Linked DNA regions of Homo sapiens. The protein of the gene in region 1 purifies or fractionates together with the protein of each later gene. This does not show direct contact. Each region holds a gene or a part of one and is shown on either strand. Other genes may lie near its edges. The genes, in order: SULT4A1 and ANKRD13C.

Region 1 (3,816 bases):
CAGGGCCCTGGAGGAAGAGAAGCCAGCCCATGCAGGTGGCGAGAGGAATTCAGGTAAAATGTTTCCATGCTGGTAAAAGCCAAGGGTGAGCCCATGTGACAGCACAGAACCTCTGAAGCCAGAGAAGCCAGAGAATCTCACACTGAGCAGAGTTCACACCCAAACACAGGCTCTTCTCCAGACCTAGGCCAGGTGCTCAGGAGAAAGAGTTGGGGGCAGCATGCTTTGGAGAGAGCCTTCCTCAGTATCATGGCTGTAGGAAAAGAAAAACATCCTACTTGTACCCTTCTCCCTTACAGAAAAAAGGCTTTAAGTCACTGAGAGAGGGGCAGCAAACCGTGTCACCTCCCAGGGCACTGGTGAAGACCCAATGTGGCTGGAGATGGGCAAAAGGAAAAACCAAGACTCTGCCCTTGGGGGAGGGGCAGGAAACTGTCCCTGGGCCCTGACTACTAGAGATTCTCAGTGCTACAGAAGGGACATGAAACTCCTGCACAAGAGTTACCATCCAGGCAGTTTGGCTGCCACTCAGAGGAGGGCAGGATCAATGAAAAAGCCCTACCCAGACCCAGCAACATGGAGCCTGCAGAAGACTGCAGCTAGACAACACAACAGAGAACCCCAAACCCTCCCTACCAAGCTACTAAACCAAAGTAACAGATAACAGCAGAGTCGATCACTGGCACAGGGGCAAGAGTGTGCAGACAAAACTCCTCCAAGGTTCAGACCTACGAGGAAGACCAAAAGGTGGAGGTGGAGCAGGAACACTGAGAAAAAACCTCTGGAAACTCAGCCCCTCCACTGAACGCAAGCTAACACTACAATAATATGAAACCAGTGGTCACTCAAGGTAATCAGATCAACACCCGAACCCAAACCAGACCAACGAGGCGGGGTTAACTCAATTCCTTATACTAATGGCCTAGCAGTTGAAAAGCCGGCCTCATTTGCAAGCATAAATATGGCTGACCTTAGTCTCTACTATCTAATATGCTGTGTTGAGCAGTCAAAAGGTACTATTCACAAAAAAGGCACACGCGCACACACACAAACAAAACTGTCAAGAGACAAAGCAATCAACAGAATTAGACTCATGGAATTTTTAAGAAGTCTGATTAACATGTTAAAGGTTCCCAAGGAAAAGATGGACAACACACATGAATAGATGGGATTATTTCAGCAGAGAAATGGAAACTCTAAGTGGAAATGCTAGAGGGAAAAAAACATAACAGAAACATTGAATGCTTCTGACAGCTCATCAGCAGACTTGACACAGCAGAAGAAAGGAGCAGTTAGCCACAGATCGGTCCACAGAGATTACCCAAACTGGAACAAAAAGAGAAAAAGAAAGAAGCCAGGTGCAGCAGTATGCCTGCAGACCCAGCTACTCAGGAGGCTGAGGAAAGAGGACTGCTTAAGCCCAGGAATTCTAGGCCAGTCTGAGCAGCACAGTGAGATCCTGTCTCAAAAAAAAAAAAAAAAAAAAAGGAAAGAAAAAAGAGGGAAGAAAACAGAAAACAGAATACAACATCCAAGAGCTGGAGGACAACATCAAACAATCTAACATATATGTAATTGGAATCTCAAAGGAAGAAAGAATGAGGTAAAAGAAACATTTTCTAAGATAATGGCTGAGAATTTTTCCAAAATAATGAAAAGCATCAAACCACAGATCCAAGAGGCTTAGAGGAATCCCAAGTAGAATAATTAACACACACATACAAAAACCCTAGACATACCATATTCAAAGTGCTGAAAATCAAAGACAAAGAGAAAACATTGAAGGCAGCCAGAGGAAAACAGGCACATTACCCAGTGGAAAAAAGAACAAGCCAACATTTCAGCAGAAGCTAAACAAGCCAAGGCCTGGCATAGCAGCTCACGCCTGTAATCTCAGCACTTTGGGAGGCCGAGGTAAGAGGATCATTTGAGCCCATGAGTCCAAGACCAGCCTAGGCAACATGGTGAGACCCTATCTCTACAAAAATACAAAAAATTAGCCAGGTGTGGTGGCGCACACCTGCAGTCCTAGCTACTTGGGAGGCTGAGGCAGGAGGATTGCTTGAGCCCAGGAGGTGGAGGCTGCAGTGAGCCATGATTGCATCACTGCACTCCAGCCTGGGCAATAGAGTAAGATCCTGTCTCAAAAAAAAAAAAAAAAAAGGAAAGAAAGAAAAAAAAAGAAAGAAAGAAAAGAAACTATGGCCAAGCACTGTGACTCACACCTGTAATCCCAGTACTTTGGGAGGCCAAGGCAAAAGAAACTATGGCCAGCCATGGTGGCTCACACCCATAATCCCAGGACTTTGGGAGGCCAAGGCAGGAGGATTATTTAAGCCCAGGAGTTCAAACCAACTACAAGTTCAACCAGGGCCAACTACTCAGGAGGCTGTGCTCCCAGCAGCCCCATCTCCTTCTTCCTCCAGAAGTCATTCTGCAGGCTTTTGCCTCCCAGCCCGGTTGAGTGATGGGGAGAAACGTGACCCCCGCAGACCCAGGACACTTGCTTTGGCAGCCCCTTCCCCAGGTCAAGCCTCCTGAGTATGTGTAACAGCCGGAAGACAAAGGGGAAGGGATGAGGGAGCAAGAGGAGAAAGATGGGGAAAGAGGAACTTCTCAGTTCTTCTGGTACAAAACCACACGTTCCATTCTTCAGGCCTCTGCATTCCCTCATAGGACGCAGGTAACTCACCACACTGCTGTGGAACACTTTGTTACCCTGTGTGGTAAAGCTCAAAGGGCTCCGCATGCTCCCTCATCTCAGAACAAACTGGTAACCCAGGAAGCGCTGGCAGGTGCTAGCTCCCACCCCCACGCCTCTCTTACCCCCTCCTGTGGGTGGTTTCTCTCCAGGATCTACACTCGGTGCTGCCACTACCCCAGCCCTTTGTCCTCCCTAGGCCCTCATTTTCACATCTATAAAAAGGAAATAATCACAAGAGCACAGGGCCGTCCTGAGAATCAAAGTGGGTGGAGGGCAAAACAGCATCTGTAATGGGTAATCCACCCAACCTGTCTCCTCCTCCATGCAGTCTCCCGAGATCCTCCTCTTCAGAACCCTCATTACCAGGCCATTTACCTGACCCTGAGAACAGCCACCCTGGCTTGTCAGTTAACTTTTCAGTGTTAGGATTCTGGCTTCCCCCATGTCACTGCAAGTGCCACAAGGTCACCATCACCTCATGCCCAGCCCTTCTGAAACCTGTCTCTCCCAGGCACAGTGACATACACACCAAGAAAACTAGGACATCCATCTAGCCTGGGACCTGCACACCATGAGTCTCCCCTCAGCTTCAGCTCCCCTCAGCTTCAACCCCTGAGTTGTCTGAAAATGTAAGACTTAAATGAATCAATCTGGTCAAATCCTCTCATTTTTAATGAGCAAACTGAGGTTCAAAGAAACCAGGTGGCTCACCCACGCCCAGGCCCAGAAGCTTCCGTCTGCATCAGTGAGAATGCGCACACACTTCAGGACTGGCCGGAACCAGGGGCAAAATAAACTCAGGGCAGTGGGTGCTCTGGCTGAGCCAGGGACCGTATTTCAAAGCCCAAGCTCCATGACTTTGGGGCTGTGCCCCCTCGGGGACGAGCACCCAATTCAAATCAACCTGTTGACAAAACCAGTGGCAGTGATTGCATCAAACCAACACACAGGGACAAAATATTTTCACAGACACAATCGGATTTAATACAACCACCGTCCCAGGACCAACTACGCTGTAAGAATGAATAGGAACAAAGTCGGTCATCAACAGAAAGGTCCTTCTCAGAAGACACAATGGGCTCCTACTGTCTGGATCACGGTTTTACCTGGCG
Region 2 (3,816 bases), on another chromosome or scaffold:
ATAATTTACACTAATGGGGAAACTTCCCCCGAGATTTGATTTAACAATTCTACAGTGTTGCAGAAATGTAAGGTTATTTAATCTTACTCATATGTATAGAATACAAGAAAAAAATATTAAGTAAATGAGAAGTCTAAAGTAGGGAGACAAACAGGTTCAGGGAAATAGAGTCAAGTTTATCCCTTTTTGTAGTCTTCTTATCGAATAAAGCACTAGAAATATAATGGAATCATGTGAAAACATTGTTCCCTGTATAATAACAAGACAGCTAGCAATAAGAGTCCTTCCTGACACAGAATTCAAATGAGCTCAGCTTTCTTTCCTGAATTCTCCAAGGACACATTCTGACTCTAACCATCCATTATAATTCCTTATCTGGATTCAAGGAAGAGAGAAAAAAACTACTTGGAGACAATTCTGTAAGCTACTTCTTGCATTTCCATCACGTTATTTTGGAAATATTAAATACCGAACAATGCTTAAAGTTTAAAAATCTAGATTTGCACATACTGTTTTATCTTCCCGAAAAAGCCATCCTGTCTGGGCACGCGTGAAAGAAATTGATTTTGTTGATAAAGTTGCAGAGTAAATATCACTGCTCATTAAAATATCCACCTCTTCTTCTGTTTCCATCTCTGATTCCTGGGATGTGAGCAAAAGTTAAATATAAAAATCTAGGTTTTTCAAAAGTTCTTAGTACTACATATGAAAATATCAACAATTATAATGGTACCAATTTTTAAAGACAAAAAGGATAGTTTCTAAATAATGTGAAGTGTTACTTACTCTAAAAAGAATTAGATGTTTAAATTGTACATATTAATATCTTCTCTAAGTTAGCATTATGACTAATTATGAATCTATAAAAGCAGGACACATGAAATACGGTACTATTATCCTGTTATAGATATGTAATGGAAGCAGTACTAGATTACCCATTATAAAACTGTATAGTCCATAGAGCAATTTTTAAAAACAACTTTAAGAATTAACTTGACAGATCTGAGAAAAAAACCCAGATAAAGGATATTTTTCTTTCAATACAGATTAATCTTACTTTAGTTCTTCTTAATGCAAAGATCCACCACTGTCATTTGAGCCTTTCTTTCCCAATAAATTGTAAGTGGAAGAAAGGAAGAACTGAAGGGAGGGATAGAAGAAGGGAAGCAGCAGAGAGGGAAGGAAGGAAAAGAAGCAAGAAAGGATCTTTTCTGTATTCCTTATAAAATGGAAAGGAATCCATAAATATCAACCGTAATTTCTAAACTTAATGAGTAGTCATGCTTCAGGTTTTATCCTGTACATATTCCCTAGTGCTGGTATATAATAATTGAGCAATAATTATTTTTTATATGAGAAAAAAGGAAAGTTTTGTGCTTGCTTCAGGGACAGAAGACTAAATGATCAAGTACAGAAGAGTAAGTGAGCAGGTATAAGATGAGATTCTATTCCATAATAGGCCAAGAAAGATACCCTAACTAATATTTAAGACGTTATAAGGAAGAAAAAAGGCAAAACCTAGGGAGTTGTCTGGAGAATAATAACAGTCCCTAGGGTTTACAATAGTTAGAGCCTTCATTCTCCAAACCTCCTTATTTCTAGGTTCCCAAGAGGCCCATTTTCTATTCTTCACCATCTAACTTTAACCTACATAGAGTCCCTTTCTGATTTTTTTTTTTTTTTTTTTTTTTTGAGACAGAGTCCCGCTTTGTCGCCCAGGCTGGAGTGCAGTGGCACAATCTCAGCTCACTGCAAGCTCCTCCTCCCGGGTTCACACCATTCTCCTGCCTCAGCCTCCTGAGTAGCTGGGACTACAGGCACCCGCCCCCATGCCCGGCTAATTTTTTTATTTTTAGTAGAGACGGGGTTTCACCATGTTAGCCAGGATGGTCTCGATCTCCTGACCTCGTGATCCGCCCGCCTCGGCCTCCCAAAGCGCTGGGATTACAGGCATGAGCCACCGTGCCCAGCCCATATAGTCCCTTCCTGAATTTCCAAAAACAATACCATTGGCGACCGGGCTAGGTGGCTCATGCCTGTAATCCCAGCACTTTGGGAGGCCAAGGCAGGTGGATCACGAGGTCAGAAGACAGAAACCATTCTGGCTAACATGGTGAAACCCCGTCTCTACTAAAAAAAAAAAATTAGCCGGGCATGGTGGCACGCGCCTGTAGTCCCAGCTACTCGGGAGGCTAAGGCAGGAGAATCACTTGAACCCGGGAGGTGGAGGTTGCGGTGAGCTGAGATCAATCACGCCACTGCACTCCAGCCTGGAGACAGAGAGAGACTCCATCTCAAAAAAAAAAAAAAACAAAGAACAAACAAACAAAAAAATAGCAATGGCTTGGGCCTGGGACAGTACCATTTCCTCTACCCCTACAAGTAAAGAATGCAAAATCTTGGTGTTACTGCTAAAGCCATAATAGGTGAAAATGTATTCCTGGTAACCCAAATTAATTCTGAACACAATATTCTTTAAAAAAAAGTTAGGTTGCAGTAGTTAAACAGAACTGTTAAACACTATACTTCAAATATATTATGAATCAAGTAGAATTTTATATATTAGCTTGGAAACTGAACACTGTATAACCCATTGTCTATGAGCAAATTTGCCTTACATTTCAAACATCCTATTTTCAATAAACTTTTGGAACAGAATTCTTATATAAATCAGAGACTATCTCTTAACCACATCACTGAAAAAGATCTGCTGTTTTAATTAATTACATTGCTTCAACATTTAATGAAGTTATTACTTATACATACATACATATTAGGATAAACAACAAGTATTCTCTGCCCTAAGGAATACTGCTCAAAATTTATCTTTCCTGTATTGTAGGCATTATAAAATACATAATACATATATGTATGTATACATACATACCTTAATACTAGTACATACATACCTTAATACCTTAAAACTGGTACCCTTAATACCAGTTCTTTGGTAATACTATGACATCCACAAATACTTATGGACTACTAGCCTTAACTTCTAGCTTCTCTTTCAAGACCCTATTTCCAATTCACTTATTGCCTAGTTGGCTATCCTGTTGTCATTTCATAAGTAAGAGGTCAAATTATTTAATAAATATCTGAGAGGCTCACATATGAGTAAGCAAACTATAATCAGCTGCCTGTTTTTATGAATAAAATGATAATGGAATATACTCATTTATTTACATATTGTCTGTGGCTGCTTTTAACAACAGCAGAGTTGAGTAGTTGTGACAGAGGCCATATGGCCCACAAATATATTTTAATATCTAAAAATATTTATTATCTCTTCCTTCACAGAAAGAGTTTACCAACCTATAGCGTAGAATGTACTGATGCTGTATTAGATAACAGGGAATACAACAAAAAGAACCCCACGCCCTTGAGGAGCTTAGACCAATAGAAGGGAAAAAAGCCATGTCAGTAAATGTAACATTAGAAGCTTTATGGTTCCAGATTTAATAGGAACATAAGGACAACAAAAGTCATTTGGTGGGAGAGAAAGTAACACCAAGTGCATGCCCTACAGGTGTGAGGGTGCAAAAAGAAAAGCATTCCAGGAAGTGGAAAGAACATGAACAAAGGAATAAAGGCCCAAATAGCCTGGCACATCTGACAAACTGCCAAGAGTGCAGTATGAGGGTATCTAAAATAGTAAGGTAAGAAAAAGGCTAGAAAGGTGAGCAAAACTCAGGTGACAAAAGGAACCATGCCGTGCTAAGGAGATTAGATTTCACTCTTTAGGTAATGGGGAACTTTTTAAGTATCTCTAAGTAACTAAGGTTTCATAAATGTGTTTCTAAAGTTTAATGTATC

The links.
Region 2: the proteins of SULT4A1 (region 1) and ANKRD13C purify together in Homo sapiens (affinity purification with mass spectrometry, with the first as the bait; one large-scale study listed by BioGRID). This does not show direct contact.

Annotation. Positions count from the first base shown.
Region 1 is NC_000022.11:43,855,905-43,859,720, forward strand, and holds part of SULT4A1 (sulfotransferase 4A1), read right to left. Parts: intron 1-3,816. UniProt on the Homo sapiens protein: Atypical sulfotransferase family member with very low affinity for 3'-phospho-5'-adenylyl sulfate (PAPS) and very low catalytic activity towards L-triiodothyronine, thyroxine, estrone, p-nitrophenol, 2-naphthylamine, and 2-beta-naphthol.
Region 2 is NC_000001.11:70,295,620-70,299,435, forward strand, and holds part of ANKRD13C (ankyrin repeat domain-containing protein 13C), read right to left. Parts: intron 643-3,816; coding exon 511-642; intron 1-510. UniProt on the Homo sapiens protein: Acts as a molecular chaperone for G protein-coupled receptors, regulating their biogenesis and exit from the ER.